Homo sapiens: one gene and its partners. The protein of the gene in region 2 purifies or fractionates together with the protein of the main gene of each other region. This does not show direct contact. Each region holds a gene or a part of one and is shown on either strand. Other genes may lie near its edges. The genes, in order: FAT3, PPIAL4G, PCDH20 and VPS13A.

Evidence for each region.
Region 1: the proteins of PPIAL4G (region 2) and FAT3 purify together in Homo sapiens (affinity purification with mass spectrometry; 2 studies listed by BioGRID and IntAct, with this or other methods). This does not show direct contact.
Region 3: the proteins of PPIAL4G (region 2) and PCDH20 purify together in Homo sapiens (affinity purification with mass spectrometry; 2 studies listed by BioGRID and IntAct, with this or other methods). This does not show direct contact.
Region 4: the proteins of PPIAL4G (region 2) and VPS13A purify together in Homo sapiens (affinity purification with mass spectrometry; 2 studies listed by BioGRID and IntAct, with this or other methods). This does not show direct contact.

What each region holds. Positions count from the first base shown.
Region 1 is NC_000011.10:92,220,034-92,227,970, reverse strand, and holds the start of FAT3 (protocadherin Fat 3 isoform 1 precursor), read right to left. Parts: upstream 3,154-7,937; 5' UTR 2,797-3,153; intron 1-2,796.
Region 2 is NC_000001.11:148,481,729-148,487,814, forward strand, and holds PPIAL4G (peptidyl-prolyl cis-trans isomerase A-like 4G), read right to left. Parts: upstream 1,575-6,086; 5' UTR 1,525-1,574; coding exon 1,030-1,524; 3' UTR 820-1,029; downstream 1-819. UniProt on the Homo sapiens protein: PPIases accelerate the folding of proteins. It catalyzes the cis-trans isomerization of proline imidic peptide bonds in oligopeptides.
Region 3 is NC_000013.11:61,412,551-61,420,912, forward strand, and holds the start of PCDH20 (protocadherin-20 precursor), read right to left. Parts: upstream 3,300-8,362; 5' UTR 2,609-3,299; coding exon 2,477-2,608; intron 1,417-2,476; coding exon 1-1,416. UniProt on the Homo sapiens protein: Potential calcium-dependent cell-adhesion protein.
Region 4 is NC_000009.12:77,172,499-77,180,891, forward strand, and holds the start of VPS13A (intermembrane lipid transfer protein VPS13A), read left to right. Parts: upstream 1-5,035; 5' UTR 5,036-5,206; coding exon 5,207-5,306; exon of another isoform or gene 5,307-5,419; intron 5,420-8,393. UniProt on the Homo sapiens protein: Mediates the transfer of lipids between membranes at organelle contact sites. Binds phospholipids. Required for the formation or stabilization of ER-mitochondria contact sites which enable transfer of lipids between the ER and mitochondria.

The DNA of each region.
Region 1 (7,937 bases), on a different chromosome or scaffold from region 2:
TAATTCTAAGAGACAACTTTTCTCCTTGTAAAATGTTAAAAAAAAAATAAAAAAAACTTCCCCCACTCCAACCCTATTAAATAAGAAGCACATCAAAGTGCTAAAGTTATTATGCTTTTTTTTTGTCTTTGTCTCTTAGAGCCCTGGTTTCCTTGGCTGTTCCTTATTCTCTCACTGTTCAATTGCTCCAATTTAGGAATAAAGAAAAAAAAAAAAAAGAAGAAGAAAGAAAAAAAGCAGAAGCAGTTGGCTTTGTGCAATTTCTAGGATTCTGAAGAATCTCAGTCTCTCAAATCTCTTCTCTCTTCTCTCCTCCATCCCCTCCTCCCTTCCTTTCCTTCTCAGATTCAAATCTCCACGTCACACCAGAACATCATTCAAGCATTCAGTAAATGTGAAGAGAAGTTCAGTGTCTGCTGGTGGAGAAGAAATCTGGGCTCTGTTTGATCGATACTGAGATGTGGGCACCTCGGTCCTCAATTCCTAGATGGCGGGCTTCCCCTTTCCACCACCTGAGTTTGCCGCCTGGATCCAGGCAAAGTCGTCTGCAGTCTTTCTGGCCGCTTCTCTGTCTCTCTGCTTTTATTTTAACTTAGCCTGGGCACAATCAGAGAATCTAATCCTAGCAACAAAGCCAGGAGCACAAATCCACCGTGATGAACTGGTAGGCCTGCTCCCCCGCCCCTTCCTCCCACTACCCCGGACTCGCCTTTGAAAAGACTAGCGTCGGGGCCAGAAAATTAATATGTCCGAGGCAAGTGGGAGAAAAGCGGCAGAAAACAAGTGGCCACGAGTGGTTTGGGTTTTGTTGCTGTTCATGTGTATCTTTTAAACATTAAGGACCCACGCACAGGAACCCCAGCCGCTCAAGCCCCGGGTGGGCGCGTCGCACCTCCCCAGGCACTGCCCAGACAGCTCGCCCCCTCCCCCTGGGCGCCCTCCCTAGTCTGGCTGGGGCCGGGGCGGGTTGGGGGAGGTTCTCGCGGGTTTGTCTGACACTTGTAAATGGAAGTGGGATCCAACTTGGAAAACAAACGCGCCAGAGTCTGGGGGCGGAGAGGAGCGGGAGGAGGGGAGAGGGGGGAAAAAGACTTCAATCATTACCGCGGTCCCAGCGTCCCTCCCTCCCGCCGCGGCTGCTGCAGGTTCGCCCAAACCCGAAGCTGAGTCCCATTGGGCGCGCGGCGGCGGCGGGATGGAGCTGGAGCTCCCGGCCGAGGCGCTAGGAGTCCACCAGATTCCGCGTGCCAGAGCCACCGGCCGCCCACGCTCCGGGCCGCAGGCGCCACTCCCTCCCGGGAGCCCCTCCTAGTCCTTCACGGAGACCTCGCAGGGTCTCCGCAGCCTCCCCGCCCCCGACGTCCATTCCGGGGACCCCTCTCCACCGCCTGGTTTGAGCCCATTATTCCAGCGAGCTGCAGCCTCAGGATGTCACCGCCAGCACACCCACACCCCGGGAGCACCCCTGTTCCTCTCATCCCGAGCAACCCAAGCGGCTCTCTTAGCTCGCAGCCAAACTCCGGCCACCCCTGCATCCTTGCCCCAAGCACGCCCCCGCCACCCCCCGCCCACAAGAGGAGAACGGTGGAAAGTGAATAAAAGTTGCTTTCCGCAAAGCCCAATCATGTTCAATGTTAAACCATCTCGGAAAGCACATGTGACAAAAGTCAACGAGAGAGGAGAGGAGGGAATTCAGATCACAGCACAGCTAAAAATATCCGGGCTCGCCATCATGCAAGCCGGGGGGCCAGATGCACTTTAGCTCAGCGACTCCCACTGGCGGAATCCTCGCGCTCACCGCGCGCCGCGCCAAGATGGTCCAGGCCACCTCTACTGCCTCCCCGCCAGCGCCCCTCAGCCCCCTACACTTGCCCTGCACACACACTGGCCTGTAGAGGGGATTCGTCCCGAACCGCCCGGGAGTGGGGCCTGAGCTCGGAGCTGGTGCCCCTGGCGTTCTCGCCCCCAATCCGGAGACAGCTCCTCCGCACTCCTGGGGATGGTCAGACCCGCGCTGCTTTCTTTTCAAAGACAAGCAGCCTTCCCACACGCCCGCCAAAAATCATGCACTCTCGCAAAGCATTCCGGTTCCCTCTCCTTGTCAAGATAGCAGGGACAGTCTCTGTCCCCAACCACTCCGTAAAGGATGTCGTCCCCAGTCGAAGAGCCGCCGCCGCCGTTCACTACATCTCACCCTGACCACAAGCCCCGCAAGCCCGAGTCAGGCGTGGGGAACGGACCCGCAGACTGGTAACCCTTTCCCTTTCCTAGCGAAAGTGGAGGCTGGGCTCCCTCTCTGCGCCGCGCCTCGCCTAGCGATGACCCAACTTGCACCTCGGGGTCCCCTAAGTGCATCATCCATCGGCATCTGAACATCCCCCACTGCGCCCGAGAGGCACCGGCTGCCAAGCAGGCTCGCCACCTGAACCTTCTCATCCACCTGCAGGGGCGGCTGGGAGCCGGGGATGGGTGCACTGATCCGCAACCCCCCTCGCAACCCCTCCCCAGATCCTCAGCCCCAAACTTGGCCAACTCTCCGTGTAAACCTCCCGGCTCCCGCCGCGGGGCCAAGCCACCCTCTTCTCCTGTTTGCAGCGGTAGCAACGGCGGCTCGGGGCTGCGCGGAGGTTGGAACTTTACAAGGTGAAAAGTTTCCCCCACGCGCTTCGTCGGCTCTCGCCTCCCCAGCCCACCTCGCAGCCCATTTGCACCCAGCAGCTGAGGCTGTGCTCCGGCAGGCGCGCTCCAGTCGGTGCACCAGGCAGCCAAATCATCACGCTACAAATCCCCACGCACCCTTGCCTCCGCTGGCGATCCACGGCTCTACGAGGCGCCTCCCCCGTGGTCTTCTTCACCCGGTGCTCGGCGCTCTTGCTCCGGGCGAGCCGGTCCCCCGGCTGCTGCCGCCGCAGCGCCCACCGCGCGCTAGCCGGGACTGAGGCCGCGAGCAGAAGCGCTCTGCGCTCGGGACGCCGCCGCCGCCGCCGCCGGGGGTTCGCAAGCGGAGGAGGGGAGCCGAGATGAAGAGAACAGCAGCGGGAGGAGAGGGACGGGAGGCGCGAGATCCCAATCCGCAGGCCAGTTCACAGCGCAGCCTGCGGGGAGGAGCGCCGGCTCTCCTGTCTGCTCCGAGCTGCAGCCGCCGCCGCTACTGCTCGCCGCCTGGCTGCTCCGGGCTCCCCATCACAGCCGACGCCGACGCACGGCCAAGCCCCTCTCCAGTCTCCCCCTCGCGCTTGTCTCTCGCAGTCTCCTCCTCCCAAACCGCGAGCGAAAAGGGCGAGGGGGAGAGGAGCCTCGGCGGCGGGGATGACTAGCGATCTAGGAGCGTGGCGCAGGGGAGAGGGGGCGCGCGGGAGGGGGCGGCGGAGGAGGCGCGGCGAACTGGAGGGCATTCCCGGCGCCGGGCCTGGAAGCGGCTAATTTTAGAGCTCGAGTCTTCCCTCAGCCCTCTGGGGCTCTAGGATGACACCAACGTACTTTCCTGCCGCGGGGAGAGCGTGGTGCTTGCTGGCTTGGGAGAGCTTTCGCACAGTGCATTGAGTCTCACCCGCACCACATCCCTGTGAAGACAGAGAACGCGTTACTCTCCTGGGACAAAGAGGAAACTGAGGCACATCGAGGTTAACATGGTTTATATAACGTCCCAAGGCTAGTTTGTAGTGTGAAGATTAAACCATCAAATGTCGTGCCTCTGGACTAAAAATGTGCCTCCCAGTGAGGGCTCCTACGACTTTCCTAAACATTGAGATCCTGGGGTCATCCGATTGCCTTGTGGAGGAGGGAACTAGACTAAGCAGCTAACGTGGTCCAATCTCTTCACTCTTCCTCTGCCCCCAATATGTTTTAAACATTTTTTTGTCTTAATGGAGGACAGGGACTCTGAAGGGGTGGATGATTGATTTGGAGCTTGATGATTGCATCTCCACCCTGTCAGCCCTCCTGGTCACTTCTGCAGCACCCACCCAAGTCCTAGGACCCCCTGACTGCACGCCCTCCGTTCTCACACTGCCCCGGTGGAGAGGGGACTCCACTCGTTCCCTGCTCTGTGTATCCTCACACTTTTGCCTTTCTTTTCCCCCCAGCAAAGAAGCAGCCTTAACCCTCTCCACTCGCCACCTACACACACACACACACACACACACACACACACACACACACACAGAGAGAGAGAGAGAGAGAGAGAGGAGAGAGAGAGCTCAACTCACATATGTCTCTAAGGCAAGCACAGCTGGCGCATTTCCTCCTATGCTCTCTATCGGGAACTTTCTCCCCAACTCTACCATTGGCACCAGGAGAAAGGGACCCCAGGACTGCAGATCTCTTCCCCAGAGGAAATCGTTACTTTTTTTTGAAACACGAAATTCTCTTTGGAGGGCGAAGTAGGGCTGCTTCTAGAGGGCTATGTGCTCAATCACTAGAGCAAGCGCTTTAAAATGCCGATTGAGTTTACCTTTCTGGCCTTCGCGCTCCCAGCCTGGGACCTCTGCCCTGTTCACAGTTACACAAAGGCCTCGCCACGCCCCACGGGTGGAAAGTTCCCCTTGAAAGCCTCCAGCAGCCTCGCTGCCTTGACTGCCACATAAAGCACCCGGCATGCTCTGGTCATTCCGCCCTGAGATTTTAATGTGAATACTAAGGAACGGTGACAGCTCCTCATACATCAGCTAATTCGGGGGTAATAAGCATGATGTTACCAAGGGCTTCATTGTCACGGAAGGCCAGAAGATAGGTCTGGAGTGAAGGAAACCACTAACAGAGCTAGGAAAACTTACCTGCTCTCCAAAATGTTAGCATCTGATTAATTTTATTCTGATTTTAGTTTTATTCAGCAACTTTCTAAGGCACTAAAAGTTTATTGTCATATAAATATGTCCCTGGCATGGCATTTTCCTTGTGACAGAATGCAGCTAACTTTGCATCAAAGGTTTTAAAGAATCAAGGTATTTCCCACCTGAGTGCCTGGCTCCTGCAACCAGGCACTTTGGGTAGAGTCGGCTGGTGGTGGTTTGGCCACTGGGATGCTCAAGGAAGGAGTGCTGGCAAGGAGGCCAGGCATCTTCTACCTTCTGCCTGGGAAGACTGCCAGGTGATTGGAGGAGTGGCCACTTCTGCTGCTGGTGTAGCTCCTGGATTTCAGCTTCCCCAAATGTTCTTTAATGCCTCAGAGGTGCCTTAGAGATAAGTAGAGAAATCTGTCTAAATTTCAGCCTCCCCATCCCTAGGCAGTACATACATAATAAAGTAAACAGTCTCTACTCCCAGGGCTGACATAAGCCATTATAGCCTGTGGGTAAGAGACTTCCTGCAAAAATAGTAGAGTGGTTTATCTAATGGGACACTCCTCTGGTCATTTTAGATTTGCATAGCATTTACTATTCATTGTGCTAATAATTCTGATTGTATAAGGGGACTGTATTTTTTTTTTTAAAGTGCCAGCCAGACACAGTGGCTCATGCCTGGAATCCTAGCACTTTGGGAGGCCAAGTCTGGATGACCACTTGGGGTCAGGAGTTCAAGACCAGCCTAGGCAACATATCAAGACTCCACCTCCTCAAAAATTAAAATTAGGCCAGTGTAGTGTCTACATATAGTGTCTCATGTCTTTAGACTCAGCTACTTGGGAGGCTGAAGCAGGAGAATCACTTGAGCCCAGGAGTTTCAGGTTACAGTGAGCTATGATTGCCGCATTACACTCCAGCATGGCTGATGGATTAAGACTCTTTCTTTAAAAAAAGGTGATGTGGCTCGGGGGAGGGGTGCCACTGTGTCACTACAGTGGAAGGCATAGAGTTGATAAAACAGTGAGCTTTATGAAAGTCAAGAATCTGTCATATTTACATTTCTATCCCTGCATAAAGCCTGGCACACTCAATAAATATTAGTACATATTCAATAAATATTCAAATAATTAACAAATGGTGAAAACTTGGGAATTTTTTTATCAGACCCAATGATTATTGTATGTAGGACATTGAAGTCCTCATAGGAAAGGAACCTATAAAAAATTGCAGATCTATAATAAAATCATATTACTTGCCATGTATCACAGCCTCCATACACCACTTCAGATCATCTGGGCCTTACCTGTTGCTTTTAGCCACCACAGGAACAGCCAGTTCTAAGTGGGCTCTAACCAGCTTCACACAGGTATAATCTGAAAGTGCTTTGCTCTGGGCTCCCCTTGCATCTTACCCCCACCCAGGGCTTTTTAGTTGAAGTTACAATGTGAACCAAAACCTAGAAGCATGAGAGATTAAAGAGCCTATGGTGGGAGCCCATGGATAAATACTCCTCTTTCCATCTGCAAGGAAAGGATTCAGAAATGTGTTCCATGGAGCTTCTCTGGTGGTCTTTGCTAAACAAAGCAGCCATTCTCCTGAAGCAATGGCCAGCTTGATAACACATCCTTGTACTGGCGCTCCATCCTTCCCTGGTTCTCCCCATCTGTTCCTCACATGCTTCCTGGGATCACACTTCCCAAATAAAATATTTTCAGCAAGTCCTTGTATCATGCTCTATTTTCTGGCAATCTCAGGCTAAAACACCTACGACTAATGCTAAATACTTACGTCAAGGGACGGCCAAATGATTTTTCAAACTGCCCTATGAGGATTTTACTTTTAAACAAACGTGTACCCAAGGACACCTGTGTTGGGGACCTGTTGTACAACTAGAAGTTTTCTGAATCAATTTCAACTTAGACTGCAAGGTTTATTAAAAAGTAAGTAATTAAAATATGCTAATTTTGAATTTACATATATGTAATTAAAACTCAAAACAGTAACTACAGGAATTTTTTAGAACTTAGACCAAAATGATCTTGTTACAGAGGAATATTTTATCACTGACATTTTTTAGAATTGCAACTACAAAGTAATACTAAAAAAAAAGACTGATTTTCTTTTTAAATTCTCTACAGATAGTGCTCCCACCCACCCGTTTGCCTGCTTGCTGTGCAGATCTCTCCTACTGGCCCACCCTTGGTATACCACTAATTGTACTTGCAGGTGGCCTTCTTTGCCACTCAACTATCCTAAGGCTGATCAATTTCAATCCCTCTTATTTTGGAACAGCAACCAAACCAAACTTGGACACACTGAGGTACTCTATTTTCGGCAAGCAAATTGTCCTACTAACTGTCTTTATCCTTTGGGAAACTCCTTCTATGCCCCTGTTTTGGCTACTGCTTTCTTCTCTTTGGCTAGACAGAGAATAAACGTAATGTCAGAGACTCATTTTTAACACATCTATAATTCTATGTTCTTTAGGCCACTCCTTTTTCTCTTTCTTACTCATTTGTTCATTCACTCACCCATTCATCTGTTCAAAAATTATTTTTGAGCAGCTGTGTACTTGGCTCTCTTTTAAGTGTCGGGGATGTAATGATTAGCAAAAACTGATGAGATATCTACCCTTATAGATCTTTGGGCCAGTGGAGAAGTCATTAATCAAATGATCAAACAAAGAAAAGCAAAAGTGAGAAGGGCTACAACTGCATGATTCAAGTGGTTTAGTTAGCACCACTGCCGTTCCAATGAGGGGGAATTTTTATTCATCTCTCTAATTTATTTACAAGCTAAAGTTCAACACGAACAATGACTAATGAGCATAAAGGATATTTAGTGTTACACCTGTTATATGTTTTGACATAATGTTATAAATAAGGGCAAATGTTATCAAGTACCAAGTTATTAATAGTACCAGGATCCCACTTTATCATCTTTAGCAAAATTTTCATCCACCCTCTTGGCCTCTGATTAAACCTGCTTTTCTTCAAGTGTCTAGAGGATGGAATATTAGAGTTTTTCATTCAAAACCTCTGTTTTAATCTTACATGTAATTTATGATTTCTTATTGGTGTCCCTATATTTTAGTACAATAGATATATTATGAATGAGATATGCTTATGTACTTTGATTGCCATTTATAACATA
Region 2 (6,086 bases):
AAAGTAAACATGAAAGACCCAAGCTTCCTTCTAACAGAGTGCAACTATTTCTCTAATAATTGAACATGTACCTACAATCTCTTGAACAATGAAACAATAAAAAATTCTCAATCACAGCATGTACTCTAAGTCTAAGAATTCTGGGTTATGTCCATTCCTCTACGAAGTTCTTCACTATACTCTCTTGACATTCTGCCATATATCATTTAAAAATTAAGTTAATCACCCTCAATAAGCCCTGTTTTAAAAAGAGGGATAAATGGAGAGGAAAGAAGGAAAGTTGTTAAGATACATAAGTATGCACAGGACAATACAAGAGAAACAATGTGTTTGGATGTCAAGGCTCTCCTTTCTGCAAGTGGCCAGCAGGTCACTATTGGCATCTATGGCCATGTGCCCTCAGCTAACACCTCTGCTAGTCAGGGTTTTGCCTTGTGAGATGACCAAATATTCATTCCTGACAGAGAAATGTCCTTGATAATCTTTTTGTGTGAGCGTGCCATGGTCATTGTTAATTTCTTTCATTTAACAAAATAATAGACTTTATTTTTTGAGCAGTTTTAGCTTTATGGAAAGATCGAGCAGAAAGTACAGAGTTCTCACATACTGTCACCTTTATCCCACCCCCAGTTTACATTAGGGTTCACTCTTTGTGTGGTACAGGTCTAGGAGTTTTGCAAAACGCATAATGTCATGTACCCATCATTACATTATTACCAACGTATTTTCAATCCCCTAAAAATCGCCTGTTTCAGAACTATTTATCTCCCTACCCATCCCCAAACTCCTGGCAACCACTGAGCTTTTTTGTTGTTGTTGTTGTTACTTAGTTTTTATTTCATAATCATAAACTTAACTCTGCAATCCAGCTAGGCATGGAAGGGAACAAGGAAAACATGGAACCCAAAGGGAACTGCAGCAAGAGCACAAAGATTCTAGGATATTGCAAGCAAATGTGGTGGAGGGGTGCTCTCCTGAGCTACAGAAGGAATGGGTCTGGTGGTGAAAATAAAACACAAGTCAAACTCATTAGAATTGTCCACAGTCAGCAATGGTGATCTTCTTGCTGGTCTTGCTATTCCTGTACCCAAAGTGCTCCATGGCTTCCACAATATTCACACGTTCTTTCACCTTGCCAAAGGCCACATGCTTGCCATCCAACCACTCAGTCTTGGCAGTGCAGATGAAAAACTGGGAACCATTTGTGTTGGGTCCAGCATTTGCCATGGACAAGATGCCAGAACCTGTATGCTTTCGGATGAGGTTCTCATCATCAAATTTCTCCCCATAGATGGACTTGTCACCGGTGCCATTAGGGTGTGTGAAGTCACCACCCTGACACATAAACCCTGGAATAATTCTGTGAAAGCAGGAACCCTTATAACGAAATCCTTTCTCTCCAGTGCTCAGAGCACGAAAGTTTTCTGCTGTCTTTGGAATCTTGTCTGCAAACTGTTTGATGGAGATGCGGCCCAAGGGCTTGCCGTCGACGGTGATGTCAAAAAAGATGACGGAGTTGACCATGGCTGATAGTACAGGGCTCACAGCGATGGCGGCGTCTGCAAAGATAACCACTGATCTTTTTACTGTCTTTATAGTTTGGCCTTTTCTAGAATGTCGTATAGTTGAAATCACAGTATGTACCCTTTTCAGACTGGCTTCTTTCACTTAGCAAAATGTCTTTGTTTTTTCTGTATCTTTTTGTGGCTTGATAGTTTTTTCCTTTTAGCACTGAATAATATTCCACTGTAGGAATATACCACAGTTTGCTTATGCAGTCACTCATTGAAGGACATCTTGGTTGCTTCCAAGTTGTGGCAGTCTTCATTTCTTTCTTTCTTTCTTTCTTTCTTTCTTTCTTTCTTTCTTTCTTTCTTTCTTTCTTCTTTTTTTTTTTTTTTTTTTTTGAGACAGAGTCTTGCTCTGTCACCCAGGCTGGAGTGAAGTGGCACAATCTCAGCTCATTGCAACCTCTGCCTCCCAGGTTCAAGTGATTCTCTTCCTCAGCCTCTGGAGTAGCTGGGATTACAGGTGTGCACCACCACGCCTGGTTAGTCTTCAGGAATATTTACAGGACTGTATAGAATTAGGAGCCATCAAAGGGGATCCCTGAATTCTTTCTGTTTTTCTTACAAATACCAGTTTTAAGGTCAAGATTTACTACCCCATGCAACAGTGTAGCCGCATTTTAAATTTTAAATTTTTGACTGTTTCTTTAAAGGTCTCAGGCAACCTAAAAGGCTAGATAGAAGTCTCTCATCCTCTAACGAAGGATGGATTGTAAAATGGAATACTGCTAAGACTCTCCCTTTGGGTACTAATTCTGCAAAAACCTAGAATCTCAGAGACAAGAGATAAGTATTTGGAGTGGATCATTAGATGTAATGACAAAAGGAGTCACTTCAACATTCATAACAAATATCAAAGATTGTTGTATTTTTTATATGGGAGACACCAGACAAGCTTATACTTAGTTACTAGTTCAGAGGATACACCACCACATCCTCTAGCATGAGTACAACCTTATAAGCCATTGTCTCCAGCTGGCACTGTGATTGAGTCTTTAATAAAATATTCACCATTCTATAATAATAATAATTTTGGTTAGTGATAGGATAAATGGTGGACCAGGTGAGTCCAATGAATATCTACTCATTTGTTATACAACAAGTTCTTTTAATAGAAGGATGTAGAACAGGATATTATGGCAGTATATATAAGGCATTCAATGTACCCGTGGAGAGTGGCGATCAGAGAAAAATGATGTCAGGTAAAGCAAATGTAATTCAAGGATAAAGGTAGATTCCATTTACAAAATTCCTTGTTGCCTTTATCATAGAGGAGCTCCAATAAAATCAACAAGTCTGACAAAAGGTGACTGGTTTATTCACCCAGGATATGTTATTGTGTGCTTAGCCTTGGACTTTGTTGCTTGTGTGTTGGACACCTAATAGTCTTGACAGCTAAATAGGCTTTTGTAAGCGAGAGTGGTAAAGTCCAACATGTTGCTAAACCTATGTGTATTCTCTACTGCTACCACCAATGTTGCTGTTTATTAGCCTTCTGAGCAAGCAATGTAGTGCCTGGTGAAAGAGATTGTTTCATACCTTCATATCTATTTGATAACCTTCCTGATGATAGTTTGGTGAGCATTCGTATTAAGCACAAATATTCTTACACTCTGGCTCATTTTCTGTGGTTCATCTACATACTTTTTCCCCAAAACTCATTGCCACCAATCCTTCAGTCTTTGTCTTTCTGAGTCCCTAATTATCTTTTCTTTTCTTTTTTTTTTTTTTTTTTTTGAGACAGAGTTTCGCTTTGTTGCCCAGGCTGGAGTGCAGTGGTGCAATCTTGGTTCACTGCAACTTCTTCCTACTGGATTCAAGAGATTCTCCTGCCTCAGCCTCCCAAATAGCTAGGATTGCAGGCACACACCACCACATCTGGCTAATTTTTGTATTTTTAGTAGAGACGGAGTTTCACCATGTCAGCCAGGCTGGTTTCGAACTCCTGACCTCAGACAATCCACCTGTCTTGTCCTCCAAAAGTTCTGGGATTACAGGTGTGAGCCATCAGGCCTGGCCCCAAGTCCCTAATTATCTAGACAAATTATTAGCTGCCACATATACATCAATAATATCTCTCCTTCTAGACATCGTGGACAACCAATTACATAGGCTGAATTTCTTTTAAAATTGCATTCACGTAGGTTATAATGCCTAAGCAATCTACTTTTGGCTGCTGCTGTGATGTTGTACAGTGACTTCTGTAAATCAGGCTCAATTTTTCCCTCACTAATCAACTGGCCATAGAGAACTTCCCATGAAGACATAGGTATAGATTCTATTATTCCTACCTGCTGATGAAGCAGGATAGTTAATTGGAAAACACTTATTTCATGATAAGCAGCTCATGTTTTCATATTTTTTTTGCATTGATAGGACTTCAGTTTCTACAATGGTCCAGGATCAATCAAGAGTTCTTTAAAGAAAACATTTATTTTGTCAAAGAAAGAAGCATTTTGTTCCAAATCCTAAGAACAATAGTAGTGGTGTGTCAGAGGCTCTATTGCATCTGGATATAAAAACAAAGGGGCACAATATTCCTGACCAGTTGGGAATTATTATCTTGATCTCAATCCCATCAAAATGTGGCAGCATGACAAGTCATGAAGTAAAAGGCCCAGGTGATAAAATGAGGTCTCCAAAATCCAAAGCATCAAAGTTCTCAGTTAGTGGTCAGGGCTGCAAAGTGCCATAATTTTGCACTTTGGAAGGTATATCTTGAGAATATTGAGTGTATGAGACAAGTTAAAAGGTCATGCAGCCAGACGCGGTGGCTCACGCCTGTAATCCCAGCACTTAGGGAAGCTGAGGTGGGCGGATCATGAGGTCAGGAGTTCAAGACCAGCCTGGCCAATATGGTGAAACCCCATCTCTACTAAAAATACAAAAATTAGTGGGGCATCGTGGTGCCCTCCTGCAGTCCCAGCTACTTGGGAGGCTGAGGCAGCAGAATTGCTTGAACCCTGAAGGCGAAGGTTGCAGTGAGCTGAGTTGGCGCCACTGCATCCAGCCTTGGCAACACCGCGAGACTCTGTCTCTTAAAAAAAATAAAAAAATAAAAATAAAAAAATGTAAAAGTTCATGATTAACACCTCTGTTAGCTTCTGATCTTTATAATAATTATCACACACACACAAACCAAACACCACACATAGAGGAAACAGTAAAAGATTAAAGGACACAGCTAAAAATACATTTGTATTATTACTTCCCAAAGTTCTAAAATTATCAGAAGGGACTAGTGAATCTTTAAAAAATATTGATTATCCAACACTTTTTAATAACCAGTATAATTGCATTGAAGGCTACTGAACATGCACATGTTCCTAAAATTTTTCTGTTATGGTGTCTGGTTTGCGAAAGGAACAAAATTAAACATAGTTCCTTGGCAATTTTTCCCTCTTCCACTCTACTAATTGGCGTATGTGCGATGTGTGTTTATTGTAAAATAGGAATAAGATTCAGAGGTCAAGAATCAAAGTGAGTCAGAGTAGGAAAAGCCAGACTCAAGCATAACAGAAGGGCAGAGCCTGTCAAACCCCAAAATTAAAGGGTAAATTTCAACACAAGTAGAAGTGGTTCAAAAGCTAAGGGCATCCTCATAGTTCATGAAAAGCAAGTATTCACGCAGGTAGCAGACTCTAATCTGCTTCAAGCCAATGTGCTATTCTCTTCGTGTTATTTATATCCCTCAGAATACCTCAAAGTTCCCAAGAGCAGTCAGTATTTAACTCTAAACTATATCATCTATATATTTATTATATATAATATATATATTTATTATATGTATAATACATATTATATATTTATTATATATTATATTTATATTGATTATATATAATATATATATATATTTATTATTATATATTTTTTTGAGACGGAGTTTTGCTTTTGTTGCCCAGGCTGGAGTGCAATGGCGCTATCTCGGCTCACCACAACCTCTGCCTCCCAGGTTCAAGTGATTCTCCTGCCTCAGCGTCCTGAGTAGCTGGGATTACAGGCATGTGCCACCACGCCTGGTTAATTTTGTATTTTTAATAGAGAAGGGGTTTCTCCATGTTAGTCAGGCTGGTATTGAACTCCCATCCTCAGGTGATCTGCCTGCCTCGGCCTCCCAAAGTGCTGGGATTATAGGTGTGAGCCAACGTGCCCAGGCAACTATGTAATATTTTAATTGTGTAGTGATAACCCTCATCAAAAGAAGTATTCATTATGGTCAGTGTACTCTGCTTATTTACCACTGAAGCTTAACACAAAATTGTTGAAATAAACATGCATATTGAAGTACTTAGCTAGCTATTGAGGCAATACAGGTTTCTAGATTTACTCATTTTTTTCACTGTACACACATGTCATGTGTGTCATGATAAACCCATGTGTGTGCATATATTGATTAAATATTATATTTCTTTTTACTTTTATTATTATTATTGAGAAAAGGTCTCACTCTGTCGCCCAGGATGGAGTGCAGCGGCACAATCTCGGCTGCCTGCAGCCTTGTCCTCCCAAAGCCCTAGA
Region 3 (8,362 bases), on a different chromosome or scaffold from region 2:
ATGAAATCCCTCAGAGTTCCAAGCCACCACAGCTACTTCATAGAACTGCTGTAGCTCATAGTCCATAGGTTTTGTGGTCTCTAGTAAATATTCATTATTGTATGGTTTGTAAGGTGATAACCTAAACGGCCCTTCACCATCCAGGTAGCAGTTAACCTTGTATTTACCTTCTGGATCTCTTATGGTGAAAAACGCAATGGGAGTGTTAACGGGTTCCAGTTCTTTCAGATAAACCACACCATCTATCTCGTTTGCTATGTAACGAGGGACAATTTCAGGGGGTCTGAAAATAACTTTAATAATGGACACAAGAGCAGTGATTACAGCAGGGATGCAGCCTGGTCCATTAGCAAGGATGGTGAGCTTGTGGGACTCCAGAACACTTCCTCCAATCTTACTGAAAAGTTTAATGACTCCAGTGTTTTCATCCAGGTGAAATAAATCCTTAGATGCTTGTGGAACTTTCTGACTGTAAGAATAAGTAATTTGAGCATTGGTCCCCAAGTCTTTATCCACAGCCTGGACAGCTGCAATTGGGGTGCCCACTGTAGCATTCCCATACACAGTGACATTGATTTGTGAGTCTGTGAAGAGAGGGCAATTGTCATTAATGTCACTGATGCCAATGGTGAGAGTGGCACTGCCCAAAAGTGGTGGAGACCCACCATCCTCAGCTATGATGATGCTCACATACTGGTCCTGGGTTTCCCTGTCCAAAGCACCCATGACAATTAGGTAGGGGGTGCGCTCCCCATTCTCATTCTCCTCCACGTCCAGGGTGAACATACCATGGTAGTCCAGTAAGCGATAGGTCTGTACCCCATTAATGCCTACATCTGGGTCCACAGCAGGATGCTCTATGGCCAGTCGGGTGTTTACAGGTGCATTTTCCGGGACCCACACCGAGATCTGGGAAACAGGGAACTGCGGGGCGTTGTCATTGATGTCTCTGATGGCGATCTTCACCTTCACAAACCTGAAGTATTCCTGAGGCAGGACAAGCACATCCAGCAGCAAAAGACAAGAGTCAGAAGGAGAGGAGGAGATGGAAACGCTGCCGCTCCACGCAGTCCCTCCACCCCCTTCAACACACAGGGCCTCCCTGTCGATCTCCTGAGCTGAAGTGTGCAGCTCCCCAGAGCGGTTGTCTAGGGTCACGTACTGGCCACTCAGTCCCCGGGAGGCCAGGCTGAAGGAGAGAGGGGGGTTCCACTCAGCACCGGTGCGCTCTGGCAGCTGCGACTGCGGGTCCGGCCTCCCTGCAGACCTGGGCAGCAGCCGCAGGTCCTCGGCCAGGCTGCCGATGAGCACCCCCGCGGGTAGTCCCTCGTTTAGGCTGTACAGAAGCTCGGTGGCCCGGCTGTAACTCCCGAGGCAGCTGAAGGGTCCCACGAAGAGGAAAAACAGAAACAGATGCTGGAGTTGGGGGAGGGAAGAAAGCTCATTACACACACGGGGAAATAGGGGTCCGAGAGAGAAACTAGCGCCCCTGTGATCCTTGCTGTCCCCATCCCCGTTCCCAGAAGCAAAACCTCTAATTAGAACGGGGGCGGAGAAGAACCCTGCTGCGAAGGAGAGATCTGTGGGGCAATATCGTCTCCAAAACTTAATTTTGCTGTTCACTTTCTATCCCCTCCGCCCCCGCCTTCCCCCCTCGTTTCCCCATCACCACCCTCATCCAGCTAACATTCAGAATCCCAAACCGTAAAACATCCCTGGAAACACACACCGGAGTGGAGAGGATTCCGACTCAGAGACTGCGCAAAGCGACACGGAAACCCAGGGTAGGTGATGGGGAGGGAGGGGGCTGGTAGTAGAGAGCACTGAAAGGTGGGCAATTTATTTCTCCTTGAAGTGATTCTGCCATTAGAGTGCTGGAACACGCAGTGTGTTACATCCCTTACTAAGAGAACCATAAAAACAACCACAATCGCAATAATAATAATAATATAGAAAAAATACCAACACTTCCTCCTCCACCTCCAACACTTTAGGTCTTAGGTCGGAAAGAGTGATTTTTATTTTAGCACACATCTGAAATCAAACCGAAAGGATCTGGATTTCCACCCCTTACCAAGCAGTCACTAATCCCCCTCCCTTAGGGGGAAGCAAAGTAAACGCGGAAAATGGCTATGCAAAAACAATTTGTCAATTGCAGTAGGCATTCATAGCCAGACGCCAGCAGCAGGAAACGATCCCGAACCCCTGTAGCTAAAGCGGATTGAGCGCACCCCCGATGCCCTCGACCTTATCTGGATACATTTCTTGCTTCAGAAACTTCCTCTCATGACCCACGGACTTCCCTATTCCTTGTTAAAAGGAAGACACATTATCCCAAACTCCCTTTCCCTCCCGGCGCCATCCTTCCCGTGAAGTTTAGATAAAGGTAGAAGGTTTGAAAAACCATCCGAGTGGGAATTGCTTCACAATACTGCAACTTGTCGGGGTCGCGGGGTTCCTTGACCCTAACCCTTACCGGCAGGTTCCTGTAGCTGGTGCTGCTCCTGGGACGATGTAGACGCCCCATATCCAGGCGCGGGTGCCAGGTCGCCGGGCACCAGCTCACTCCCAGGGCCTGTGAGCTGCGCGCATTCCCTCGGCCGCGCATTCCCTGGGAGGCTGCAGTCAGAGCGCTCTTGAAGGGAGGGCGGCAGAAGACACTCCCTCTCGGTTCATGCAAATCGCTGGGGGAACTTCAGCCAATAGTCACTGGCTCTTCAATTAAGGACGGGAACTCAAAGAGTGGCAGAAAGGCAAGAGGGCAGAAGGGCACATTCATGGTTTCCTGCCCCGGACGCAGGTAACTCCATACTCTGCCAGAGGAGCTGGAATGGGGGACTTGCTCCTGAAGACTGCGAAGAGGCAGCTCGGGGTTGGGCACAGTAGCGCTTACCTACCAGCCTCCTTCCTTGCCGCACCAGTCAGATGCCAAGTCCACAGGTTGCTAGCAAGAGAGGGAGAATTAAAATAAATAAATAAGCTTGCATTTGTATATGGATGTAACAGAGAGAGGAAGTCGGCGCCACAGAGCAATCACAGGCGCGGTCCCAAAACGCCTGCTTTGCCAACAGTTCCTCCTGGAGCCTCGGATCCAGCAGTGTTGGCACAGAGAAAGAAAATGCACTTTTCTCAGCGGAGGGAAGGAATCTCAACTTCTGTGTAACGTAGGGTGAACCGGAAAAGTAAATATATGAATTCAGTGAAGGTTTCGACATACCCCAATTTTGAATCTTTGCTGTGGGCAGTGGTAGAGCTTCTGCTAGTTTCCTAGTTGGAGGCTCAAATGTCTCTGGGTGTTTGCCTTGTGGTCTTATTTTAGAGGCAGTAGTGGCTTCTGGATGCGGGGAAGAGCCAAGGGGAAAGTAGAAACAATTGTGCTGTAACACAAGTAGTTCTGCCTGCAAGTAATCTTAAACATATTTATCTAAGCGGTAAATTGGTGTGGGGAGGGGGAGGTATTCACTGAAGCCTAGGTAAAACATTGGTTATTTTTCAAATTAGTCCTTCCTTCCTTGTTTCCTTCCTTCCTTCTCTCCCCCCCTCCCCTCTTTCCCCTTCCCCCTTCCCTTCTTTCCTCTTCCCTGCTTCCTTCTTTCCTTCCCCCTTCTTTCCCTCCCCCTTTCCTCCTTCCTTCCTTTCCTTCCTTCCCCTTCCCCTCTTCCCCTTCCCCCCTTCCTTTCTTCCTTCCTTCCTCCCTCCCTCCCTTACTCCCTAGCTCCCTCGCTCCCTCACTCTCTCCCTCTTTCCCTGCCTCTCTCCCTTTCTCTCTCTCTTTCTTTCTCCTGGATTGCCTACTGGAAAACTGGTCCTTCATAAAGGAATTGTGGAAGAGTGTGGTGCCAAATGATTGCCTATCTTCTATGGCTTTGACACTGAATAGCTATGTAACCTGGAGTCACCTAACTCCTGGCCTTCTGTTTCCTCATTTATAAAATCAAGGCTAGTGGGATACTCCAGTGCATTAAGCCTCTGAAACACTTTTTGATCTGCAGGTTGCCATGTAAGTAATGGAAAAGCCCATGATTCGGCCTTTCCTTGAGAAGACATTTCTCTTCATCGCTAGGCTTCCAGATATCCTCTGCAGGGTCCTGAACATAAAACCTCACATGCTGAATGACCAGTGACTGAGCCTAGAGTGAAAAAAGGTCTTTGATACCTGATTTCCATATGCTTTCTGTAGGAACTACTTCAATTTTCCCCTTCCACCAAATGCTAACTAGAATATAAATTGCTTGGCTGAGCTAACTGTTTTGCTTCCTATCCTTCCTATTTTCTCCTCATTTCTAATAATCCTAAACACAGAGTCCTAAATATGGACAACACACTACATCAAAACACCTGGAGGGTAACAGCTTGTTATTGTGCAAATGGGGCTGTACATGGAGTTCACAAGTCTCTCTATAATACAAATTTGGCATACAATTTGAACCTGGCTGGTAAAATCAGTTCCTTCAAACCCTTTACAGTGAAAATGGAGCACTGATGAAGTGGTAAACCTCAGCCCCCAATCACCATCACCCCACCCCTCACCCCCCTACCCCTCTCCCACTCCACCTCCTCCCCACCCCACACACACACTCAAAGGAACATGCACATCTGAGTTGAAGGTTGGTAAACAAGCTGCAGCCAGGGAAGCATGATCTCCCTCCTTGTGCTTTTTAGCTGCTGGTTCTGCCCTACAGCTGAACTTTTGCCATATTAGTAAATATTTACTTTGAGGTCTGTAGTTGAAACATACTTGACTCCCCAAATCAGTACCAAGCTGCTTCTGAAACGTGTTTAACTTACATCTTTATACAATACCCACAGCTTCCCGAAGTTGGAGGCCCACGGCCAGAGTTAGGCAATCTGTCAGCAGTCAGAGAACCTGCAGTCTGCAACAATTCTCCCCCAGAGACAGAGCAGCAGAGTGGGCTGTTTATCCGCTCACAGCTCATGCCCTCTGCAACAAGTTAAGATCATCCACCTTTTTGGTGGAAACGTAGGGAGCTATTTTCTTCATTTTTCCTTTGTTATAAGGACATTGTACAGGAGCTGTTGTTTATGATGATAGTCCAGGTGAAGTGACATTTTCTCTTTGTAATTATATCTCAAGTTTTTACTTTTCCCTGGCCCCTTACTCTCCCTTTCCCTACTTTGCAGTGGTTGCTTGTAGTACAGATGCACTTCCTTTTTAAAGTGTTTCCCCCAGCCTACACCAGCAGAATCTTCGTCTTCTGACCCTATCACCCAGCTGGTCTCTGTGGAAAGGGTTATTACCACACCTCCCTTTATTAAGTTGAAAAGAAATTAAATATACCCATTTGGCCATAATTATTCTCTAGAGTGTTTCTAAAAACCATAAACATGAATTATAGCAAAAGTTCTTCATGTAAGTTGAAACACTAGTATTGAACACATCTTGAAAATAATGTTTGGAACGACACTAACAACCACATTTGCTTTAAGTGACTACGGTGATTGCAAAGTCCCTGCATGGAAGTTTGTCATCAAGATTGGGAGATCTTGGCATAATATTGAACAATACCTTCCACGTCGCATTTCAAACCATTCACTGAACTACTTGTTATTATCTTTCCTCTCTGAAAATCCAAAGGTTTTACACAATGTTTATACCCTAATTGGGCTTAAATAAAATAAAAAGGACTAAATAGACATCTTTCTTCCCATGTATCCCTTCTCTGGGCCTTGTGAAAGCATTCCCAAACTCTTATTCCTTATGATGCCAGCCTGCGACCTACCTTCTGGTGTCACATATTTCTAACGATGACTCAGAAAGCTTCTATGCTATTAGTCCCTTGAAAATAATACTTATGAACTTCTTAGACGTCTCAATTGCTCTGGGCCTGCTTCCCACATGTTTTGTAAAAATCGATCTAGAAGAATAGTTAGATTATATGCCTCCCAAGCCTATTTTTCCTATAGACAAGGAAAACAGCAGGATACAATAGACGGTGCACTGAGCTGAGCCAGAGGAGTGGATTACATTCTCTGGGTTGTTGCTAAGTTCTGTGTGACTTTAGACAAGTCATCAAACTTCTCTGTTTCAATTTCATAAAAAAAGACCCCTACACACTTCATGCACGTATATGCATGAAATTGCTTACCTCATATCTGGCATTAACAGACACTGCATGCTGATACACGGGTTAACTTGATTATTACTTATTGCATTCTATCACTAAAACATACTATTTTTCATTTACTGCAAGCCTTCTTTTTGTAATTTTATTATCTCCACTACAAAGATGTGAGCAAGATTATAAGTATATATCAAGATACCATCTTTGCCTGGGCGCGGTGGCTCACGCCTGAAATCCTAGCACTTTGGGAGGCTGAGGTGGGCGGATGGTCTGAGCTCAGGAGTTCAAGACCAGCCTGGGCAACATGGTGAAACCCCATCTCTACTAAAAATACAAAAAACAAACAAACAAACTAGCCGGGGCGTGGCAGCGTGCGCCTGTAGTCCCAGCTACTCTGGAGGCTGAGGCACGAGAATGGTGTGAACCCGGGAGGCAGAGCTTGCAGTGAGCCGAGATCGCACCACTGCACTCCAGCCTGGGCTACTGAGCGAGCGAGACTCCATCTCAAAAAAAAAAAAGATGAGGAAAAAAGATACCATCTGTAAACTTTTTACGTTTTAAATCTTTAAAAAAAATTTTTGAAGCACTATGCTTTACAGGTAGTTTTATTTGTATTTCTCAATTAAATCTATTTCCACTATTTAGATTAGTTTAATAATATTGTGGTATACACAAAGTTTCATGTAATCACTATATACACAGATATTTAAAACTATCTTGAACCATAACCGTGTACATGTTCTGGTTAATTCATAATTGCAAATAAATATAAGTTTAGAATATTACCTTATTTTAAGGCCATTTCTCTTTGTCTTAATAGAATTTTTAAAATTAGAAGTCCCTTTTGATGAATTAAAATATATGTACATGTGTACACAAAATATATTATTAATATATAGGTACATATGTAAAAGTGTAAAATATACCACATATAAATATAACATATAATAAATATATATACAATGAAATATTATATCTGTATTCTTTTTTGATTCAATCATCAAGGTTAAAAGGATGATTACATTTGAAAAACCAATAAAATACCTGAGAAATGATAGATTGGTTACCTAGTGTCAATTATGTTTCAAACATGCTACTAGGTGGTTGACATATGTAATTTAGTTAATCCTCACAGCAGTTTTATAATATAGTTATTATTATACCAGCTTTATAGCCATACATAACATGCTAGTCCAGAGCCTGATCTGTGACCTTCAAAATATGTGATCTTTCTACTCTGGTATGCCTTTCTCATCAGAATGGGAAAATAAAGGGCCCACACACATTTAAATGTATTTCTATTCAACAAACATTTATCACTCATTTAAAATAAAAAAAATTGGAGGCATAGATGTGTTATATGATGCCTTTTCGAAGGAAAGGATTCTTTAGTCCATTACTACTTCGTAAATAGATACATACACATGGATATAACTTGTCTAAGCTGTGTGGCTAACTTAAATCTCCCAATGTATACATGTAAAATATATAATGTGTGTATAGCTGTGTGTATACTTGAAAGTACTGAAAAGCTTTGGATAATTTTAGGGATCACCTAGTTAGCCCTCATTTTACATGCTAGGTGACAGTAAGAAAGATGACTTATAGCTGACTCAAATTATGAAAATACTCCCATTTCTTATAATAGTACTAGATTTTAACCTCACAATTGCTCTGATATTAGAGGATAACCTGTAAAAACAGTATATTTTTTAAACCATCTACGGTTAAGATCAAAAGCCTTGATTTTAAGAGTTACTCTAAACTTTATTTTATTTTATTCATTGTTCAAATTTACAAATATTTACAAATATTTTTAAGTAACTACTGAAGTACTAATTATTTTTTAAGTATATCACACAAACTGAAAAAATCCTACTTCATTTCCCTACACGATTCAGAAATTAATAGTGAGACTAACAGGGAATCAGCAGTGAGGCCTTTTGCTAAAAAAGCTGGACAGTTAATTCAGTAAATAAACATACATTTACACACTTGCAAGAAGAAGGTCCAAATGAGCTAATTTACTATAAAACTTGTATTCTAAAACATTTACTGCTGTACTGTGCAACTTATACATGGGACCTTTGTAAGCATTATTCCGTCCTGATGACTCTTTTTTATGTTTTAGAAAACTTTGTGTAAATAGATTGTACATTTCTCCTCTTTCCCTATATATTCCAATAGGAAAGAATAAGATAGGATGGAAGGGTCCTTTCATTTCAGAACTCAATTAGCATCACTTTAACAGGGATAAAAATAACTGTGTGAAGTCATTA
Region 4 (8,393 bases), on a different chromosome or scaffold from region 2:
GTAGGAGCTGTTAACTCTCAGGCTTATCTCATTCTCTGGGGCATCTCCTAGTTGACTTTGACTCAGCAAACCCTTCAAAAATTATTTTAAAAATAATTATACTTTGATAGAGAGTTGTTGCAAAAAAATCTATAGGGGGGGTCCCATATACCCTTCACCCCAGTTTTCCCCAATGGTGACATCTTATATAACTATAATGCAATATCACAATAAGAAAATAAAGATATTGGTACTATCCATGGAGATTATTCAGATTTCTCCACTTTTATATGCACTTACGTGTGTGTGTAGTTTAATGCAATTTTATATAACCACTGCCACAATCGAGATACAGAAGTGTGTCATAAACATAAGGCTCCTTCCTGCTATCCATATGTAGCCGCACCTATCCATCCTACTTATACTTAACCTTTGGCAACAACTAATTTGTTTTCCATCTCTATAAATTTGTTACTTCAAGAGTGTTTCACAAATATAATAATACATGTTTTCACTCGCATAATTCCCCTGAGATCCATCCAAGTTGTTGCATGTATCCATAGTTCACCTTTTTTTATTGCTGAGTATTCCACAGTGTGGATGTACCACAGTTTGTTTAAACATTCACCAGTTGAAAAAAATGTGGGCTGTTTCCAAGTTTTGGCTATTCATGTACAGGTTTTTGTGTGATCTATAAGGTTTCATTTTTCTGGGATAAATGTCCAGGAGTGCAATTGCTGGGTCATATAGTAAGTGCATGTTTAGTTCTTGTGGCAACTGCCAAATTGTTCTCCAGAGCGCTTAACTATTTCACAACCCCACCTCCAGTGAATAAATGATCCAGTTTCTCAGTATCCTAACCAGCCTTGGTATTGTCACTATTTTTTCCAACCATTCTGATAGATATAATATGATAAGATATTCTGATATCTCATTGTGGTTTTACTTTTCATTTCCCCAATGGCTAATGATGTTGCACATGTTTTCATGCGCTTGTTTCCATCTGTATATACTCTTCAGGAAATGTCTGCTCATGTCTTTTGGTAGGCTTTTGAGAGTTCACATCCATGTCTATCAATTATCCGATAAGGTTCAGAACCCGCTCACAGCAATTCATCAATGTGCATACATAGTTTTCCCAGAGAGTTATAAGATAACATACAACATAATAGCATTTCTGATACATCTTCTTCACCAGTTTAGAAGGGCAAAATAATACATGCTCACTACAAAAAAATTAAACTTGAAAGAACAGAAAAAATACACATTGCCAAAAGTCTCACCATATAGAGATAACCACTGTTAATATTTGGTGAGCATACTTCTAGATTTCTTTCTGTATGTAAATGCTCTGCACACTTAAAAACTCACCAATTTGTATAATTAGTGGGATACTATTCTGCACCTTGTTTCTCATGAGCATATATTATCGACATCCTTCCACACTAGTATAGACTTTCATTATCATCTTAATGCCTGTATAGTAACCCACTACGTGTGTATGTTTACTTAACCAGCTTCCCTGTTAATGGATATTTCGGTCGTTTCCATTTCTTTTTGCTATTATAAACAATGCTTTAAATAGTGTTCTTGGCTGGGCTTGGTGGCTCAAGCCTGTAATCCCAGCACTTTGGGAGGCCGAGATGGGTGGATCACTTGAGGTCAGGAGCTGGAGACCAGCCTGGCCAACATGGCGAAACCCTGTCTCTACTGAAAAATACAAAAATTAGCCGGGTGTGGTGGCACCCGACTGTAATGCCAGCTACTTGGAGGCTGAGGCAGGAGAATCGCTTAAACCCTCCTGGGAGCGGAGGGTGCAGTGAGCCAAGATCGCACCATTGCACTCCAGCCTGGGTGACAAGAGCGAGACTCTTTCTGAAAAAAAAAAAAAAAAAAAAAAAAAAAAAAAAAGTTCTTGTGGGAATAATTTTTTGGATTTTTATAATTATTTTCTTAGAGTAAATCTGTGGAAGTGGGATTGCTGAGTTCGTCATATACACATGTACGTATATATATGTATGTACGCTGATATATATACACATATGTACTATGTCAGTTTGTAAATGTTTAGGAACTGCCTTTTAGAAATATTGTGACAATTTACATTTTCCCCTGCCCTGCTTAAGTAAGATTCTTTTTTTTTTTTTTTCTGAGATGGAGTTTTGCTCTTGTTGCCCAGGCTGGAGTGCAATGGTGTGATCTTGGCTCACTGCAACCTCTGCCTCCTGGGTTCAAGCGATTCTCCTGCCTCAGCCTCCTGACTAGCTGGGATTACAGGTGTGTGCCACCATGCCTGGCTAATTTTTTTTTTTTTTTGTATTTTTAGTAGAGACGGGGTTTCGCCATGTTGACCAGGTTGGTCTCGAACTCCTGACTTCAGGTGATCCACCTGCCTCGGTCTCCCAAAGTGCTGGGATTACAGGCATGAGCCACTGTGCCTGGCCTTAAGTAAGATTCTTATAAGGTTTTTACCTTTTTGCTTGTATTCCCCTTCCAGTGAATTTTTCTCTTTTTATTAAGGATTGGAACACATGGTCTAAAGAATTTTTTTTTTTTTTTCACTGTGTCACCCAGGCTGGAATGCAGTGGCACCATCATAGTTTACTGCAGCCCCAAACTCCTGGGCTCAAGGGATCCTCTCACCCTTGGAGTAGCTGGGACTACAGGCATGTGCTACCATGCCAGGCTCCAAATAACTTTTTATTGTTTAAAATTTTTAAAGCATAAACAGATGGAGCACAGGGCTCTGTGAAGTTAGATCAGTAAAAGTCCCATACCTATAAAACGGCCATCTTCTACACTTGTTCCTCCAGGACATCTTCTGCTTCAACAGCTTTGTGGTCTGCTTCAACAGCTTTGTTATCTGGCCATCTAGCCTGCTACCACAATGCCCATGGGGAATGATAAGGACAAGCAGCCCACCAATGACATTTACTTGTGGACAAAAGAATTAAGATTAGGAGAAAAAAAAATTCCAAGATTACTACCAGTACACCAAAACTTTAAAGACGAAGAGCTGTGGCATGGAAGGTATACATAAAACTGCAAGTCCTACTTGCAAAGTTAGAGATTTATTGTAAAGTTAGATGATATTGCAGTTTGGGGTCATTCAGATGCTCTCCCCCTCTTTTGTTTTTCCATTTGATCAAACAATGAAGTATAGCATTTTAATTGTGATCTAGAGAAAGAATAACATACACTGACATACTTCCTAATTTGAAACTCGAGTTTTTATGGTAGTCATTGGGCTTATTTTTCAAGGTACAACAGAAATTTGGTTTAATGGTTTAATGAGCATACCTTTTACATGATGATGTTAATATATTTTTGCTTACAAACTTCCTTAGATGGATTAAGCAATGCAAAGACTGAATGCAAAATGTTGTCTTTTAGTATTTACAAAGCATGTTCATATACATCTAACACTAGATAAGAATTCGGTTACAATATGCATCCACTTATTTCTAACTCTTCCTCAGCAGAATTTTTTTTCATTGCTTTATGCTTATACCTCTAACTTTTCAGCAACATCCCTTCCCCTTCCTCACTTCCACAAAATTTTCCTAGATCGTAGAAAACTAATATGAAAACGTTTGCAAGATACTTAAGATGGATTTTTGGAGTTCTGGAAATTCTTGTAACTTTGAATTTGCAGCGCTAGATATAACAGCGGAATTTTGCAGCTACTGTGTATCTGGCTTCTTATTAATAGTGCAATGGCAAAATGCCTCATTATGTAGAGCTCTTCCCCTTCCTAGGCATTTTAGCCTCTATTCGTTTCTCCGTGCAGGTATTCTGAAGCAGACTGTTAGCTGAATGAGAGAGAAGCAGGTGGGGTGGTAGCCAATCAGAAGGGCCAAGTTCCAGTTCTTCCACAGAACATTGGTTGTATGACCTTGCACACATCCCTAACACTTCAGCTTCATTATATTTAAGACTAGGAGGTTGGAGACCTCATAAAGGTCCTTCAAATATAAAATTATATGAAAAACATTCATAAACTCAGGTAAAAACTTACAGTTTTTGTCAGGCATTCTACTTGCAAAGGCACACCCTAAACATTTAATTTTGAAAAGTCGGTGACTATGCACAAAAAGTAGTAAAATGACACAGGAATTAATAGAAATCCATCATTATTCATTTAACGTGTAAAGAGAAAACGCTCAATGTACACTTTTTCGGTCCTGCAGATGATTAATTACAGTTCTCTAAACCTCACATTTAGCATCTCTGTGACCTCAGGCCTTTGGGATTACTTCTAAGTAAGACCAAACAGGTCGAAAGATCTGTAATTGTAATTTATTTTAGGTCAGTGGTTCGGTGGAGGCATAGGGGTCAAGGGTCCAGCACTCCCAGTATTTCTTGGAGGGTGTTCAGCAGTTTCCAGACCGGCTGACTCCAACTCTTATCTGCAGGGAAGCGTGTTACTCTTTGGAATGAAAGACAGCTCCGTATAAATGACTTGACCAAAAATGGGTGCTCATCTCAGATGCAGGGCAGGGACTATGTAACTCCATCCTCGACTCGCAGCAGGAAGTTAACTCCTCCTGAGAGCCAGGCGGTCGGAGGACCAGGCGGGGAGGTTACAGGCACCAAGACACCCAGGCTGGCTGGACCCTCCCACCCTGTAATGATGAGGGGAGATGCTCCCTGGGACAGCCCCCTTGAAGCTTCTGGCGACGGGGCTGGGATCCGCCCACCCTTACTCAGGGGCGAGCCCTGTCATACGCGTGGAAGCGGCCACCACCTTCTAGGGGGAGGGGCGTTCCCGTCGGGCGTAACCGCCCCGCCCTGGGGGGCCGCTGGGGACGCTGATCTGCAGGAGGGGGCGGGGTCGGAAAAAATCCGGTAGCTCCAGACCGGTGTCCCGTTGCCAGGCGATGGGGAGGAGGCGGGGCCGACAGGAAAGAGGAGCCGGGCTCGGCGCGAAAAGGGCACCCTCCAGAGCCGCGGCCGCGCAGCCGCCTTTCCTCCCTCTCAGGGCTGCGCGCCCAGGTCTGCGCCGCGCTCCGCCTCCAGCCGCGCGCAGACTTGCGCACGCGTCGTGAGAGCGACCGCCTCCGTCTCTCGCTGGGCTCGCTAGGGCTGCGCGTTGGGCCAGCGGGGGCGCCGCAGCTGAAGCCGCCCCGGAGCCGGTGAACCGAATTACCTCGAGGGAGGGGCGTGGGGAAGGCGGCGGGAGGAGGAGCGCACGGGCCGGCTGCCGTGCCCACCACGGCTGAGGAACATGGTTTTCGAGTCGGTGGTCGTGGACGTGTTGAACCGGTTCTTGGGGGACTATGTGGTGGACTTGGACACGTCCCAGCTCTCTCTGGGCATCTGGAAAGGTAAGGAGGCCGCCGCCGCCGCTCCCCGGCCTCTCGTGCTTCCCGGCCGTCTCGCTGCCCGAGCGGCGTCCTGCGTTCTCGGGGCTTCGAGCACCTTGCTCGCCGGGTGCAGCCACCTGCCGCCGCCCGCCTGTGGGTCAAGTTACGTAAAGCCGGGCGGCAGTTCCCTGGCCTCCGCCCTCGAGTTGTTTATATTTTGGGGGAAAGGAGAGGGTCATGAGTGCGGGATGAAAAGGTCTATATTTTCCGAGCGGAGCGGACTTGCCGTGGGCTCCGTGGGTCTGGCGTTCAAGTCCCGGCGAGGGGCCGTTCTCTACCCCTGGCCCCGCACGGTCCGGCTTTAGCCGCGCGGGGCGAGGAGGCGAGACGACGCCTTCCTGGGCTGGGTCCCATCCCTGTCCTTTGCCCCCCTGGGTTTATGACGAAGGCCCCAGAAATCCCCCGCGTGTTGCATGCTGCCTCGCACGTGAAGGCAGGGCGCTGTGACCGGGGACGCCCGCTTCCTTGCTTCCCCAGCCTCAATTCCTGGCTTCACCCGTGGTGCTTTCTGCTCTCCCCCTTCCGGCCCTAGGACCCGGACGCCGGCTCTCTCTCGCCTGGGTTCGGCGGATAACAAAAAGGAAACTCAAGTGCAAAGTAACTCAAACAGTTGCTTGTGTGGTTGCAGTTAACAGCCTGACCTAGGAATGTGTAACATTTTCAAGACTTTAGGATATGTGGGTCAGAGTGAATTGCCGAATTTTAAAGAAAAACCAGGGCGTGCGGTGCAACGTCTCAGACCTGCAAAAGACCGGGCTGAACAGGGCCCTACGCTGCCTAGGTGGTGAAGGACCGAGCTTTCCTTGTGTCCGTTTAGTGTGGTATTCTGCCTTAGTGAGAGCCTCATTTTTAGTGTTTCCATCTGTTTTTGCATTATGCGCTTGTTTATTTTAAACACCCGCTAGAAATTAGACTCCTTTGTGAAATGAATTTCCCAGGCCAAAGTGAGGGTTAATTTTGTGTGTGAAGTGTGTGTGTTTAAATATATATTTAAAGTAATTTATTCTTGTCTGTGCACACACTTCCAGTCTTCTTCTAAAATACTTACCTTGACTCTTCTCGTTTATGAGATAATGTAAACAGGTAGTTTAGTTTGATTTTAAAGAATGTTACTACCGTGGGGACCTAGTATCATGATGGAGAGTGAGTGGACTACAAAAGCTAGGGATATAGTGATAGCTGCTCAGCCTGTTTGATTAGTACAAGAAACTTGCAGTCTGTTTATGCTGCTTCTTAGTTGCAAAGTGAAAATAAAATTTGTCTCCCATGTACCTCAGAAGGAAGCCTTAAGAATACTTGAGGTGAACTTTGATCTGTAGTGGAGTCTTGCTTCCACATTCAGGGTGGAGGTTTGTCTAGAGTGTGATTAATCAACTTATTTATTTGTTTAAAATTTACATGCAGTAAAATTCACTCTTGTGATACAGTTCTGTCTTGACAAATGCTAAGAGGCATGTATGCACCACCACAATAATGGCACATAAAAGGTTCATCAAGCCTCCCGAATTCTCTCAGCTGCTCCTTTGCAGTTGATCTCACCCCGCCACCACGCCCGGCTAATTTTTAGTAGAGAGGGGGTTTTGCAATGTTGGCCAGGCTGGTCTCAAACTCCTGACCTCAAGTAATCCGCCTGCCTCTGCCTCCCAAAGTGCTGGGATTACAGGCGTGAGCCACTGCGCCCGCCTGACTGTAAGTATTTATCTGTTTGCTGGTTGAAGAATATTTCAGTTTTTGGAGGTTATAAATAAAGCCGTCATAAACATTCACGTACGGGTGTTTGTGTGAACATAATTGTTATTTCTCTTGGATAAATACCTAAGAGTGGTTTTAAATTGGGTTGTACGTTTTTTTTTTTTTTTTGAGATTTATTTCATATACCATAAATTTCACTCTTTTAAAATGTACAATTCAGTGTTTTTTAGTATAGTCACAAAATTGTACAACCATCACCACTCTCTCATTCCGGAATATTTCAGCACCCCAAAATTAAATCGTATGTCCATTAGGAGTGACTCCCAATTTCCTCCCTTCTCACTACTCCACCTCTGGCAACCACTAATCTTTCTGTCTTTATGGATTTGGTAATTCTGGACATTTCATTTAAATGGAATTATATGATATGTGGCCTTTTGTTTCTGGCTTCTTTAACCTAATGTATTTTCAAGGTTCCTCCATGTTGAAGGATGTATGACTATTTCATTTGCTCTTAGGGTTGAATAATATTCCATTATATTCATAGACCACAATTTATTTATCTATACTCACCAGTTGCTGGATGTTTAGATTATTCCTAAACATCCACCTTTTGGATATTATGAATAATGCCACTGAACATTCATGTACAAGTTTTTTTGTGGATGTATGTTTTAAATTCTCTTGGATATATACCTAGAAGTGGAATTGCTGGGTCATATGCTGACTTTGTGTAACCTTTTGAGGAACAGCCAAACTCTTTTTCCAGAGTGTTTGTTTTCTTATGGTTGAGTTTTGAGAGTTCTTTAAATATTAAGGATACAATTTCTTCATCAGATATGTAATTTGAAAATACTTTCTCAGTCTTTTCCCATTTTGTCTTTTGCAGAGCATACATTTTTGATTTTGGGAAAAGCCCAGTTTATAAAACATTTCTTTTATGAATCATGGCTTTTGGTATTCATATCTAAGAAATCTTTTCCCAACCCAAAGTCAAAGATGTTCTCCTGTGTTTTCTTAAGGAAGTTTTGTAGTTTTAGGTTTTGGATTTCTTTTTGTATAAGGTGTGTGATATGTGTTGAAGGTTGAGGTTCATTTGTTTGCATGTGGATGCAAATATCCAATTGTTTAGCACCACTTGCTAAGAAAGAGGATCCTTTCTCTATTGAATTATCTTTGCATTTCGTAAAAAAAAAATCAGTAGACTTAATATTGTGTGGCTTTAGTCTGTCTCAATCTGTGTGTCTATCATTTCACCAATACTACACTGTCTTGATAACTGTGTCTTTGTAGTTAGTCTAGAAATCAGGTAATGTGATCCCTCTAACTTTAGTCTTTAACAAATAATTTAAAAAA